2 separate regions of the Homo sapiens genome follow, and region 2 is linked to region 1. The links come from fine-mapping of genetic effects on plasma protein levels. A gene starts in region 1. The other region holds a variant in brackets. All regions are shown on one strand. Distances are from middle to middle. Region 1 holds the start of SPINK2 (serine peptidase inhibitor Kazal type 2). Region 2 holds the start of LOC105377668 (a long non-coding RNA gene).

Region 1 (6,962 bases):
TAAAATCCAGTTTGGGATTTATCCAGGCCACATCTTCTATTTTCCCCTCTAATGCCTACCTTCTTTAAACTGTCCCCATCCCACTTCCCCCAGAAAGGATATTCAGTTTTTTATGGCACCTCTCCCCAAAAGCACATAGAAATAACATTTGGTTCTGTTCCCATTAGGGTTGGTTGAGAAAGGACTTTGAAGCTATGGAATAAAAGTCGCGCTAGCGCACTGCAGCTTCAATTCCTGGTCTCAAGCGAGCCTCCCGCCTCAACCTCCGGAGTAACTGGGACTACCGGCCCAAGCCACTACACCTGGCCAAGGAAGTAACCCTTAATTAATAGTTCATGATGTTATTTTCCTTTACAACTCGGGGTAACAAATACAAAATTTAATATAAGATGTGAGCATTTTAACTCCATTTTAAGAGAGGTGTCCAGTGTGGTTGGACTAAAGCCCCTTTCTCGTAAGCATCCACAATTCCTCATTCCTGCACATCTCCTCCCTTGGGACCATACATAAAAACTCAACTCCTCATCTTGGGCACCTGAAAATCTACTTTAACAGAGAAAGCGCTCTAGATGGCAGGTGTCCTTAGAGCTGGGAGCGAAGCCCAAGCAAGAACTAAAGAGGGTGGCTGACTCCACAAAGCCACCCCCACAACCCCCAGTTCGCGTTCCTCCACCTGGCAGGTCCTCTGGGGAACCGCCAGTAACGGGCGCGCGGGTACCGTCGCCGAGGCCGCCCGGAGCAGGGCAGGGTCCGCCGCCGGTCTGACTCCCAAACCCGCTTTTCTCCGGAGGTCCCCGCTCGCCAGGACCGCTCCGAGCGCTACCTGCGAAGGTAACTGCCAGGAGCAGCAGCGCCAAGCGCAGCACCGACAGCGCCATCCTCCTCCCGCGCCGGCTGTCTTGCCCCTGCGGTCTGTTACCTGCGCCACTCGCAGGGAGCGCTCGTGCGACGGGGCGCGGGGAGGGCGGGGGAAGGGGCGGGGCGAGAATGGGAGGAAAAGCAGCGGTAGGTGGCGAGGGAAGAGGGGCGGCGGGAAGAGGAGCGGCGGGAAGAGGAGCCGTGAAGGGTCGGGGGAGAACCGGAAAGGGCTGGGAAGGAGAAAGGTAGAAGGACGGGGGAGGGGGCCATGGGGAAGGAGGGGCGAGGGAGATAGAGGAAGGGGCAGTTGTTCCCCAACACCTTCCCCTCCCCCCAAGGAGACGAAGGGGAAGACCTCTCCCTCCGACATACAAGAACCTGTGACAGTCCTAGGGGGACCCTTGTGGAGCTCTTGGGAGCTCTGTCAATCAACACCTATTTCTTAAGCATGTACTAAGTCCCAGATAGTGTTTCGTTGCTGAAGACACAGCCCTGACCTCGACAAAGGAGGTCCTTGCTCTCAGGAAGCGTTCTGCCTTTCCCTCTTTTAATATATTTTTTAACTATTTGAGTTGACACATAATGATTGTACATATTTATGGGGGTACATAGTGATATTTGGATACATACAATGTGTAGTGATCAAAATAGGATAATTAGCATATTCATCACCTCAAACATTTATCATTACTTTGTGTTGAGAACATTCAAAATCCTCTCATCTAGCTACTTGAAAATACATAATAAATTATTATTATTATTTAAATTTCAGACAGGGTCTCGCTCTTTTACCCAGGCTGGAGTGCAGTGGCACGATCTCAGCTCACTGCAACCTCCACCTCCCAGGTTCCAGTGATCCTCCCACCTCAGCCTCCCTCCCAAGTAGCTGGGACCACAGATATATGCCACCATGCCAAGCTAATTTTTGCATTTTTTGTAGAGAGGGGTTCTCACCATGTTGCCCAGGCTACTCTCAAACTCCTGGGCTCAAGCAATCCGCCCACCTTGGCCTCCCAAAGTGCTGGGATTACAGGCTTGAGCCACCGTGCTCGACCTTTATAATATATTATTGTTAATTGTCGGCACCCTACAATGCTATGAAACACTAGCACTTATCCTTTCTACCTAGCTGTAATTTTGTATACTTTAACCAACCTCTCCCTATCCCCCTATCCTTCCCAGCCTCTAGTAACTACTGTTCTACTCATTACTTCTGTGAGAAATAATTTTTGCCAAAGAGGCTGAGCAAGTTAGTGCATTAAGGCCAGGCGTGGTGGCTCACGCCTCTAATCCCAGCACTTTGGGAGGCTGAGCCTGGTGGATCACTTGAGCTCAAGAGTTTGAGAGGAGCCTGGGCAACAGGGCAAAACCCCGTCTCTAAAAAAAGTACAAAAATTAGCCAGGTGTGGCCATTGAGCTGAGATTGAGCTACTGCGCTCCAGCCTCAGTGGCAAAATGAGACCATGTCAAAAAAATTTGGCCAGGCACGGTGGTTCATGCCCGTAATCCCAGCACTTTGCGAGGCTGAGGCAAGTAGATCACTTGAGGCCAGGAGTTTGAGACCAGCCTGGCCAACATGGCAAGACCCCATCTCTACTAAAAATACAAAAATTAGCTGTGCATGGTGGTGCGCACCTGTAGTCCCAGCTACCTGGGAGGCTGAGGCATGAGAATTGCTTAAACCCAAGAGGCAGAGGTTGCAGTGAGCCGAGATGGTGCCACTGCACTCCAGCCTGGGCGACAGAGTAAGACTCTGTCAAAAAAAAAAAAAAGTGCATTAGCAGATCCACTTTTTTTTTTTTCTGCTTCTTATGCCTGTGTGTCAAATGATTCTGTGACATGTTGCCTTATCAGTAAGGGTCCAGTCTGGAAAACACAAGGTTTACTAGGTATTTCACCAGAGATAATTTAGTATAAGGAATTGGCTAATCCAGTAGGGATAACTGAAAAAAGCAGAAAGGGAAAACGAGGTAACACAGAGATAAAGCCTTTAGGAAGTAGGCATCATGCCTCGATCTAGGGGAACAAACGGATTAGGTTGGGATTCTCAGAACTAGAAATTTGGAGGAGAGGTCCTGGAAAGCTGGGACTCAGACCCATGGGAAGGGGGTGTTGCTTGGATATGCAGGTGGCTCTAAGAGTGTGTGGAAAAGCTGAAGACTGGAGCCAGGTGCAGTGGCTCACACCTGTAATCCCAGCACTTTGGGAGGTTGAGGTGGGTGGGTCACTTGAGGTCGGGAGTTCGAGACCAGCCTGGCCAACATGGTGAAACCTTGTCTCTACTAAAAAATATAAAACTTAGCTGGACATGGTGCCATACTCCTGTAATCCCAGGTTCATGAGAATCTCTTGAACCTAGGAGGTGGAGGTTGTGGTGAGCGAAGCACACCACTGCACTCCAGCCTGGGCAACAGAGTGAAACTCTGTCTCAAAAAAAAAAAAAAAAATGCTGGAGACTGGAGCCAGCTGATTCTATCAGAGTGATGAAGAGTCATTGCTGTGGCACTGCTGAAAGAAACAGCCAGCAGGCAGGAGCCAGTCCCTTCTCCCTCCTCCTGCCTTCCGGTGTCCCCCTGACAGACCCTATGGGCATAACCTTCTGGAAGCCAGCTGAAAAAGCAGAAATGAGGTCTGCTGAGACCTGGCACCACATAGCAGAGTGTAGAAGGGGGTTGTAGAGCTGATGGAGAATCATCTTATGACTGGCATGTTCCCATGCCCACCCTTGACCTTAGCAACCTCAAAGGCTGGAACAAGAAGACACTGTGCAGTTTTTAACTCCACTTGGCACCACACATGGCTGAGTTCTGGCTGGAATCCTGTCTGAGGCCAAGGGGTAAATTTGAAATGAGTGTTAGTACTTCTCTAAGTCACATCACATTCAGTTCTTTGAATAACAGTCATGAAATGGTCATGGGTCATTTTGCTGAAGATTCTTATCAAGGATTGATAAAATATAATTTATATATAAAGCTTTTCTCAACTGTGCTGGATGTCTGTTACCAAATGACATGTGCACTTGCTTACAAACACCTTTGATGCTCTGGGAACACAAATCTGACCCAGACTCAGGGGCAATGCTCAGAGGTGTGTGAGTAGGAATTTCAGCTTCAAAAGAAAAGCCATTTACCCCTCAAGATAGATTTTTTATAAATTTATGTGTGTGGATACAGCTGCCTTTAGGTTATTTTGTTTCAAAGAGTTGACACTGACTGGCAGGGTGGCTCATGCCTGTAATCCCAGCACTTTGGGAGGCAGAGGCGGGCAGATTGTTTGAGCCCAGGAGTTGGAGACCAACCTGGGCAACATGACAAAACCCTGTCTCTAAAAAAATACAAAAATTAGCCTGGTGTGGTGGCGCGCACCTGTAGTCCCAGCTACTTAGGAGGCTGAGGTGGGAGGATCACCTGAGCCTGGGAGGTGGAGGCTGCAGTGAGCCATGATCACACCACTGCATTTCAGCCTGGGTGACAGAGCGAGACTCCGTCTCAAAAAAAAAAAAAAAATGTTGATAATTATACCTTAGAAATATTTTCTATCATGGTGCTTTTCACATGTTGTCTCAGCATTTGTGAGCCAAGAACAAGGGTCAAAAAACATTTTCTGTAAAGGGCCAGATAGTAAATACCATTGACTTCTTGTCACAACTAAACTCTGCCATTGCAGTGCAAAAGGAGACATAGACTATAACTCAATGAATGGGCATAACTGTATTCTTTTTTTTTTTTTTTTTGAGAGAAGATCTTGCTGTGTCACCCAGGCTGGAGTACAGTGGCGCAATCTCAGCTCACTGCAGCCTCAACCTCCTGGGCTCAAGCGATCCTCCCACCTCAGCCCCACAAGTAGCTAGGAATACAAGCATCCGCCACCACACCCAGCTAATATTCTTGTATTTTTTGTAGAGGTAGGTGATATGGTTTGGCTGTGTCCCCACTTAAATCTCAACTTGAATTCTATCTCCCGGATTTCCCAAGTGTTGCGGGAGGGACCCAGGGGGATAATTGAATCATGGGGGCCAGTCTTTCCCATGCCATTCTCATGATAGTGAATAAGTCCAGGAGATCTGATGGGTTTATCAGGAGTTTCCATTTTTGCTTCCTCCTCATTTTTTCTCTTGCTCCTGCCATGTAAGAAGGGCCTTTCACCTCCCACCATGATTGTGAGGCCTCCCCAGCCATGTGGAACTGTAAGTCCAATTAAACCCTTTTTTCTTCCCAGTCTCATGTATGTCTTTATCAGCAGCATGAAAATGGACTAATACAGTAAATTGGTACCAGGAGAGTGGGGCGTTGCTGAAAAGATACCAAAAATGTGGAAGTGAATTTGGAACTGGGTAACAGGCAGAAGTTGGAACAGTTTGGAGGGCTCAGAAGAAGACAGGAAAATGTGGGAAAGTTTGGAACTTCCTAGAGACTTGCTGAATGGCTTTGCCCAAAATGCTGATAGTGATAAGGAGAATAAGGTCCAGGCTGAGGTGGTCTAAGATGGAGATGAGGAACTTGTTGGGAACTAGAGTAAAGGTGACTCTTGTTATGTTTTAGCAAAGAGACTGGTGGCATTTTGCCCCTGCCCTAGAGATTTGTGGAACTTTGAACCTGAGAAAGATGATTTAGGATATCTGGCTGAAGAAATTTCTAAGCAGCAAAGCATTCAAGGGGTGACTTGGGTACTGTTAAAGGTGTTCAGTTTTATAAGGGAAGCAGAGCATAAAAGTTTGGAAAATTTGTAGCCTGATTATGTGATAGAAAAGAAAAGCCCGGACAGGCACAGTGGCTCACACTTGTAATCCCAGCACTTCGGGAGGCTGAGGTGGGCTGATAACCTGAGGTCAGGAGTTTGAGATCAGCCTGGCCAACATGGTGAAACCCTGTCTCTACTAAAAGTACAAAAATTAGCCAAACGTGGCGGTGGGCACCTGTAATCCCATCTACTCCGGAGGCTGAGGCAGGAGAATCGCTTGAAGCCGGGAGGCAGAGGTTGTGGTGAGCAGAGATGATGGCGCCATTGCACTCCAGCCTGGGCGGCAAGAGTGAAAGAAACTCTGTCTCAAAAAAAAAAAAAAGAAAGAAAGAAAAGCTGGGCGTGGTGGCTCATGCCTGTAATCCCAGCACTTTAGGAGGCCAAGGCGGGCGGATCACCTGAGGTCAGGAGTTCGAGACCAGCCTCAACATGGAGAAACCCCGTCTCTACTAAAAATACAAAATTATCCAGGCATGATGGTGCATGCCTGTAATCCCAGCTACTTGGGAGGCTGAGGCAGGAGAATTGCTTGAACTTGGGAGGCGGAGGTTGCAGTGAGCCGAGATCACACCATTGTACTCCAGCCTGGGCAACAAGAGGGAAACTCCGTCTCAAAAAAAAAAAGAAAAAAAAAAGGGCCAGGTGCAGTGGCTCACGCCTGTAATCCCAACACTTTGGGAGGCCAAGTTGGGTGGATCACATGAGGTCAGGAGTTTGAGACCAGCCGGACCAAGATGGTGAAACCCTGTCTACTAAAAATACAAAATTAGCCAGGTGTGGTGGTGCATACCTGTAATCCCAGCTTACTCAGGAGGCTGAGGCAGTAGAATCGCTTGAACCCGGGAAGCAGGGGTCGCAGTAAACCGAGATCACTCCATTGCACTCTAGCCTGGGCAAGAAGAGCAAGACTCTGTCTCAAAAAAAAAAAAAAAAAAAAAAAAGAAAGAAAGAAAGAAAGAAAAAGAGAAACCCATTTTCTGGGGGGAAATTCAAGCCGGCTGCTGAAATTTGTATGAGTAGCAAGGACCCTAATGTTAATCCCCAAGACCATGGGGAAAATGTCTCCAGGACATGTCAGAGACTTTCACTGCAGCTCCTCTCATTACAGGACTGGAGGCCCAGGAGGAAAAAGTGGTTTTGTGGGTGGGGCCCAGGGTCCCTGTGCTGTGTGCATCCTAGGGACTTGGTGCCCTGTGTCCTAGCTGCTCCAGCCATGGGTGAAAAGGGCCAACATACAGCTCAGGCTGTGGCTTTAGAGGGTGGAAGCCACAAGTCTTGGTAGCTTCCATATGGTGTTGAGCCTGCAGGTGCACAGAAGTCAGGAATTGAGGCTTGGGAACCTCCGCCTAGATTTCAGAAGATGA
Region 2 (8,527 bases), 32 kb before region 1:
GCCAGCTGCCCTGTAGGAAGACGACTGCCCTAAGCCCAGCGTGCTGTGAAATAGCCCTCATTAAGTTTTACAGTGGTTTGTTATGAACACTAGATAACGAAAACAAAGAGCCACCCCACTGCGTTATATTTAGGGCCTGTATTTCCACCTTAGGGGAACAGCAGCTTAGGGGAGAAGGTAGTGTTTCTTCTCACAGGGAAAGAGAGTGGTTGTTTAACAGACGTCTTCCATGCATAAGAGGATGCATAACACTGCAAAGCATCATCAAATGCTGACTTCCCCTCACTGCATTTCTTTCCTCTGGCTCCTTTTCTCCCTCCACCCACCCACCCACAGCGTTTTTTTTAGACAGGGTCTCACTCTGGTTGCCCAGGCTGGAGTGCAATGGCGTGATCTCAGCTCACTGCAGCCTCAGCCTCCTGGGCTCGGTGATTCTCCCAACTGAGCCTTCTGAGTAACTGGGAATACAGGTGCACTCTATCAAGCCCGGCTAATTTTTTTGTATTTTTAGTAGAGAAAGGATTTCGTCATGTTGCTCAGGCTAGTCTCAAACTCCTGGACTCCAGCAGTCTGCCCACGATCAGCCTCCCCAAGTGCTGGGATTATAGGTATGAGCTACCACGCCCGACCTCCTCCCCCTTTTAATGAGCTGATCCCCCCGCACCCCGGATTTGCCTTCTGCTTCTTCCCACTCCTGTCATTTTGCCTGTGCTGTGCCATCCACCTGCAACACTCCTCCTTTATCAAAATCACTCCAGTTTTTCTGAACCCTTGTAAGGTATAACTTTTTTTTTTTTTTTTTTTTTTTTTGAGACAGGGTCTCACTGTGTTGCACAGCCTGGTCTTGAATTTCTGGGCTCAAGTGATCTTCCTGCCTGTGCCTCCCAAAGTGCTGGGGTTGCAGATACGAGCCACCGCATCTGGCCTAAGTATAACTGTTTTAATAGTTTTCCATGAATACCTCAGCCCCAGCAAAAGCTGTTCCTTTCCTCTGAAATCCATCCCCAAAGCAATTCTAAGTGGAAAATTGATTTGGCCATTAGTCAATTTGTAACATCATTTCTCTTATTGTCTTGAACTAATAAGCAAATGTACCTTGATTTAACTTTACAGTAGTTTGTTTCTTGTTCACTGAATCAGATCGTAGTTCATTAAGAACAAGAATATTGGGCCAGATGCAGTGGCTCACGCCTGTAACCGCAACACTTTGGGAGGCCAAAGTGGGTGGATCACGGGGTCAAGAGATCGAGACCATGCTGGCCAACATGGTGAAACACTGTCTCTACTAAAAATTCAAAAATTAGCTGGGCATGGTGGCGCACACCTGCTGTCCTAGCTACTTGGGAGGCTGAGGCAGGAGAATCACTTGAACTCGGGAGGCGAAGTTTGCAGTAAGCCGAGATTGCACCGCTGCACTCCAGCCTGGTGACAGAGTGAGATTCTGTCTCAACAAACAAACAAACAAAACAAAACAAAACAAACAGGAATATTGGCTGGGTGTGGTGGCTTAGGCCTGTAATCCTAGCACTTTAGGAGGCAGAGGTGGGGGGATCACTTGAGGTCAGGAGTTTCAGACCAACCTGGCCAACATGGTGAAACCCCGTCTCTACTAAAACTGCAAAAATTAGCTGGGTATGGTGGCGCCTGCCTGTAGTCCCAGCTACTCAGGAGGCTGAGGCAGGAGAATTGCTTGAACCCAGGAGCCAGGGGTTGCAGTGAGCAGAGATCATGCCATTGCAGTACAGCCTGGGGGACAGCAGCGAAACTCTGTCTCAAAAAAAAAAAGAACAGGAATATGTGTTGTCATCCACTCATTAGAAAGTTAGTAAATATCTATTGATTTCAACTGTATTTACCAGTTCTATCGAGAACAGGCAGCCAAATAGTTTTATTTTTAAAGCTCTCATATCCTATCAAAATGATTGCAACAATTTTAAACTTTTGCCTAAGACTAGGGGATTTCTGGGAATGAGAAACTTCAGTTTTAAAACTGAAAAATTAGCCGAGTGTGGTGGTGCGCACTTGTAGTCCCAGCTACTCTGCAGGCTGAGGCAGGAGAATCACTTGAACCAACGAGGCAGAGGTTGCAGTGACCTGAGATTGCGCCTTTGCACTCCAGCCTGGGTGACAGAGCAAGACTCTGTCTCAAAAATAAATGAATAAATAAAATAAATAAGACTGAGGACATCCCATGCAAACCAGGACAAGTTGGCTACCCTACTTATAAGTTTATTGCCCCATCTAATTCACATGGTACCCCACCCAGTGTTTCAAACAGCAGAACAGTTGCCCAATCCTATTTTCACATAAACCATTCTCGTAAGTTCTATTAGTTCAAACAGGTGGTCTCCTAAACAAGTTTCACTGTCATTTAAATTTGATAGGCTTTTGAAAATCATTTGTGATAATTATACATTACCATAATGGAGGTTGTTTTCATAGTAGAAGCTATAAAAAGGAAGGATAAAAACTTGCTGGATTTTCTCCAGTTTGGGTGTTGGAGGGAAGGTGTATGTGGCAAGCACATGTCATTCAGCCCCAGATGGTCTTAGTATATTCCATCCTGCTGCAGAGGAAGTTCAGGGCTTCACTAAGACCTTAGTTAGACCTTTTGCTACATTGTATTGAAACATTTACCTGTCACTCTTTACCTCCCAGTACTGTGAGCTGCTTTTTTTTTTTTTTTTTTAGACGGTGTCACCAGGCTGGAGTACAGTGGTGCGATCTCTGCTCACTGCAATCTCCGCCTCCCGGGTTCAAGTGATTCCCCTGCCTCAGCCTCCACAATAGCTGGGACTACAGGCATGCGCCACCATGCCCAGCTAGTTTTTTTGTGTTTTAGTAGAGATGGGGTTTCACCATGTTGTCCAGGATGGGCTCGATCTCCTGACCTCGTGATCTGCCCGTCTTGGCCTCCCAAAGTGCTGGGATTACAGGTGTGAGCCACCCCGCCCGGCCTACTGTGAGCTTCTTAAAGCCAAGGGCTGGTATATTTATATGACAACATTTATAAAACACATTCAGTGTGCCAGATAATGTTCTTTGCTTTTTACAAATTTTGTGTGTGTGTTTTTTTAAGAAACATGTTGTAATAACATGTTCTCAAAGTTTGCTTCCAAAGATGTTTCTCTGCCAAACTCTTATATTCACTAACTGAAAACAGCTTTTGATGCATCTTTAAGAAATCATGCTTACATTTGCCTTTTTTTGGTATAAATTTATGGGGTACAAATGTAATTTTGTTTCATGCATAGATTGTTTGGTGGTGAAGTCAGGGCTTTTAGAGTATCTATCACCCAAATAACATACATTGTACCCATTAAGTGATTTCTCATTATCCATGCCCCTCCCACTCCCTCCCTCTTCTGAGTCTCCATCGTCTATCACTCTGCACTTTAATCCATGTGTCCACATTATTTAGCTCCTACTAGTAAGTGAGAACATGCAGTATTTGTCTGTTTCTGAGCTGTTTCACCTAATGGCCTCCAGTTCCAACCATGTTGTTGCAAAAGACATGATTTCATTCTTTTTGAGGCTGAATGGTATCCCAATGTGTATGTATACATATATATATCACATTTTCTTTATCCAACTATCCATTGATGGACAGTTAGGTTGATTCCATATCTTTGCTATTGTGAATAGCGGTGTGATAAACACATGAGAGTAGATGTCTTTTTGCTGTAATGATTTCTTTTCCTTTATTTTTAGTTTTTTGAGAAATCCCCATACTATTTTTCGTAGAGAACACACTAATTTACATTACCACCAACAGTGTATTAGAGTTCCCTTTTCTCCACATCCTCACCAACATGTTATTTTTTGTCTTTTTAATAATGGCCATTCTGACTAATATAAGATGATCTGTCACTGCGGTTTTAATTTGCATTTCTCTGATGATTAGTGATGTTGAGCATTTTCTCATATGTCTGTTGGTCATTTGTATGTCTCCTTTTGAAAAATATCTGGGAGGCTGAGGTGGGCAGATTGCCTGAGCTCAGGAGTTCGAGACCACCCTGGGCAACATGTTGAAACTCCGTCTTTACTAAAATACAAAAATTTATCTGGGTATGGTGGTGTATGCCTGTAGTCCCAGCTACTCAGGAGGCTGAGGTGGGAGAATTGCTTGAGCCCAGTAGGTGGAGGTTGCAGTGAGCCAAGATCGTGCCACTGCACTCCAGCTTGGGCAACAGAGTGAGACTCTCTCTCTCAAAAAAAAAAACAAAAAAACTGTCTATTCGTGTATTTTGTCCACCTTTTAATTTTTATTAGAGACAGAGCCTTGCTCTGTCACCCAGGCTAGAATGCAGTTGCATGATTATGGTTCATTGTAACCTTGAACTCCTGCTTTGCCCACTTTTGTTTTGTTTTTTGTTGTTGTTTGTGATGGAGTTTCACTCTGTTGCCAGGCTGGAGTGCAATGGTGCGAACTCAGCTCACTGCATCCTCCGCTTACCAGGTTCAAGCAATTCTCCTGCCTCAGCCTCCAGAGTAGCTGGGACTACAGGCTTATGCCACCACACCTGGCTAATTTTGTATTTTTAGTAGAGACAGGGTTTCTCCATGTTGGTCAGACTGGTTTCGAACTCCCGACCTCAGGTGATCCGCCCACCT[C/T]GGCCTCCCAAAGTGCTGGGATTACAGGCCTGAGCCACCGCACCCGGACTTTGCCCACTTTTTCAGTGGGGTTATATGTTTTTCATTGTCGAGTTGTTTGAGTTCCTTGTAGATTCTGGCTATTAGTCCCCTGTCGGATGCATAGTTTGCAAAATTTTTTTCCCATCTGGCAGGTTGTCTGTTTACTCTGTTGATTATTTGATTATTTCTTTTGTTGTGCAGAAGCTTTTTAGTTTAATTAAGTCCCATTTGCCTATTTTAGTTTTGTGGCCTGTATGTTTGAGGTCTTAGTCATAAAATTTTTGCCTAGACCAACGTCCAGAAGAGTTTTACCTAGGTTTTCTTTTAGTATTTTTATAGTTTCAGGTACATGTAAGTCTTGTAATTCATCTTGAATTCATTTTTGTATATGGTGAGAAATAGGGGTCCAGTTTCATTCTTCTGCATACGGCAATCCAATTTTCCCAGCACCATTTATTGAAAAGGATGTCCTTTCCTCAATGTACGTTCTTGTCAATTTTGTTAAATATCATTTGGCTGTGCTTTCTTACAAATGTTGACTCATTTAATTCTCATATGACCTTTATCAGAAAGGTGCAATTATTATTCCCATTTTACAGATGAGGAAACTGAGGCACAACTTGACAGTGGTTAACCAACTGTCAAGCTAGTAAATGGTAGAGTTGGAATTTGAATTCAGGCAATTTGGCTCCAGAATGTGTTTTTTTTCTTCTTCTTCTTTTCAATGTTTAAAAATTTTCAATAGAGGGCCGGGTGCAGTGGCTTAGACCTGTAATCCTAGCACTTTGGGAGGCTAAGCTGGGCAGATTACCAGAGGTCGGGAGTTCAGGATGAGTCTGGCCAACACGGTGAAACCCTGTCTCTACTAAAATACAAAAAAAATAATTAGCCAGGCATGATGGCGGTGCCTGTAATCCCAGCTACTTGGAGGCTGAGATGGGAGAATTGCTTGAACCGGGGAAACAGTGACTGCAGTGAGCCGAGATCACACCACTGCACTCCAGCCTGGGCAGCTGAGCAAGACTCCATCTCAAAAAAAAAAAAAAAGTCAATCGAGATGGGGTCTCACTATGTTGCCCAGGCTTGTCTCGAACTCCTGGCCTCCAGTGGTCCTCCCCACACAGCCTCCCAAAATGTTGATATTACAGGCATGAGACACCAAGCCCGACCCCCAGAATGTGTTTTAATCACTACATAATCCTGCCTAGTCCTTATTTATTGTACCACAGCACCTAGCTCCATCTCTGGCATGAAGTAGATGTTCAACAGAATATTTATTAAAGAATAAACAAGTGGCTGGGCATGGTGGCTAATGCCTGTAATCTCAGCACTTTGGGAGGCCAAGGCGGGTGGATCACCTGAGGTTGGGAGTTCGAGACCAGCCTGACCAACATGGAGAAACCCCATCTCTACTAAAAATACAAAATTAGTCAGGCGTGTCAGCGCACATCTGTAATCCCAGCTATTCGGCAGGCTGAGACAGGAGAATCACTTGAACTCAGGAGGCAGAGGTTGCGGTGAGCTGAGATAGTGCCATTGCACTCCATCTTGGGCAATAAAAGCGAAACTCCATCTCAAAAAAAAAAAAAAAAAAGAATAAACAAGTAAATGATTCCCTTTTGTACAACAATCACATTCCAGGATAGGATATTCTTGCGGAGTTCTAATTTAAAACATTCTGCCATGTTTTCAAAACATGTTAAATTAGGCATGAGATGATACATCTGGATTTAGGGATCAGAAACAGTGGCACAGTTTCCATAAGATTATTAATTCTATTTATTCTGATTCTATGTTCAACACATCATCTTCAAATTGATAATTCTTAGTCTGCCATCTTAATACCAGGAATGAGGTGCCCTGGGATAATGGTTGTCAAATGCCAAGCACTGGAAAAATATCAAGTGTTGACCAGGTGTGGTGTCTCATGCCTGTAATCCCAGCACTTTGGGAGGCTGAGGTGAGAGGATCACCTGAGACCAGGAGTTCATGGCCAGCCTGAGCAACATAACAAGGCCCCATCTCTAGAAATATATTTTTTTATTTTTTATTTGAAAAGTATAGAACGTTTTGTTTTAGAGATGAGGTCTTGCTATATTGCCCAGGCTGGAGTGCAGTGGCTGTTCACAGGCACAATCCCACTACTAATCAGCACAGGAGTTTTGACCTGCTCCATTTTCGACCTGGGCTAGTTCACCCCAGGTGAACCTGGTGGTCTCCTGCTCCCAGGAGGTCACCATATTGATGTCAAACTTAGTGTGGACGCCTGATCGACATAGCACAGTACAGCCCAGAACTCCTGGGCTCCAGTGATCCTCCTAGCTCAGCCTCCCGAGTAGCTGGGACTACAGGCATGCGCCACTGCTCCTGGCCTCTAGAAAAAATGGTGTGGCAGTGTGAGCCTATAGTTCCAGCTACATGGGAGGACAGCTTGAGCTCCGGAGTTCAAGGCTGCTGTGAGCTATGATTGTGCCACTGCCCTCCAGCCTGGGCAACAAAATGATACATTGTCTCAAAAAAAAAAAAAAAAAGAGAGAGAGAGGAAGAAGAGGAAATTTGGACACAGAGAGGTACAGAGGGAAGACCATGTGCAGACTCAGGGAGAAGATGGCCATCTTCAGAGCCAAGACAGGCCTTAGAAGAAACCAGCCCCGGAACACTTTGATCTTGGATGTCTAGACTCCAGAACTGTGAGAAAATTAATTTCTGTTGTTTAAGCCATCCAGTCCGTGGTACTTTGTTACAACAGCCCTAGCAAACTACCCCAAGGCCCTAGCCAGGAATGTACCTTGTTAGGATACTATTTTATGGTAGGGGCTGCTTATCTTGTATTATAATCTGGTCTACAGAATCTTTCAGCTAAGGATTCCATGGTCCAGAAAACTTTCTATGCTAGTGGTTCTTATGTATTCCCTGACCAGCAGCATCAGCAGCTCCAAGGAACTCATTAAAAATACAAATTTTCAAGCCCATTCTATAACTATGAAATCAGAAACTGGGAGTGGAGCTTAGCAATGTGTGTGCCCTCCAGATGATTCGGCTGCAAGCTAGAGTTCAAAAGTCACTGATCGGCTGGGAGAGGTGGCTCATGCCTGTAATCCCAGCACTTTGGGAGGCCAAGGCAGGCAGATCACTTGAGGTCAGGAGTTAAAGACCAGCCCGGCCAACATGGTGAAACCCCATCTCTACTGAAAAAAAAAATACAAAAATTAGCCGGGCGTGGTGGCAGACGCCTGTAGTCCCAGCTACTCGGTAGGCTGAGGCAAGAGAATCGCTTGAACCTGGAAGGCAGAGGTTGCAGTGAGGTGAGATCGTGCCACTGCACTCCAGCCTGGGTGACAGAGTGAGACTCCATCTCAAAAAAAGAAAAGAAAAGAAAAGAAAAGAAAAGAAAGCTACTGTTATACAATAATAACTAAATTTGGTTTGTTTTTCAACTCAACTTTATTAAAAGAGAAAGAAAAAGAGATGACAGGTACATCCCAAGTTCCAAGAATCCCCATGAGGTTAAAGGGGCATTTGTTTCATGTATAATCAATCAGAGGCTGCCCCTCCTCTACTAATGGTGCCTTGGTGCCCTGTCTGCTCTAGCTGTGCCTTCAAGACTAATTCTGGCACACCTTGCCAGAGTGCTCCCTGAATGCCTTTTTCTCCTTAAAGAAGCCTGCAGGGAAAGGAGCTTTGGGCCCTGCTCCACGCTTCTGGGGAACCCCAGGTGTTCTCATGAGCACACCCAGGCCAAGGCTGGACCCTTTTTCAAGGGGCCAACCACTGCCGCCTCCCCATTTTCCCCTACCGACCATTCTGTACAGGCGCTGCTGCCTATTACAATGCCTTCTTTCAGGCTGGGGGCTCTCAGCCGTCTCTCTCTCTGCCGTCACTGCTCTTGGGG

Evidence for each region. A credible set is the group of variants that fine-mapping cannot tell apart. PIP is the posterior inclusion probability: the model's chance that the variant is causal. Protein levels are from the aptamer-based SomaScan assay of Sun 2018.
Region 2: its variant is the best candidate, but not a certain one, in a credible set for the plasma level of the SPINK2 protein (Sun 2018, PIP 0.59).

The regions. Positions count from the first base shown.
Region 1 is chr4:56,820,785-56,827,746 of GRCh38, forward strand. It overlaps SPINK2 (serine peptidase inhibitor Kazal type 2), which reads right to left and starts at 917. Exons shown (of 4, transcript NM_001271718.2): 1 at 674-917. The coding sequence starts at 878. RefSeq lists a silencer at 759-1,018.
Region 2 is chr4:56,787,636-56,796,162 of GRCh38, forward strand. It overlaps LOC105377668 (a long non-coding RNA gene), which reads left to right and starts at 7,287. Exons shown (of 3, transcript XR_941082.2): 1 at 7,287-7,325. It also overlaps the pseudogene RN7SL492P. The variant C/T (reference allele first, on the strand shown) is at 4,615.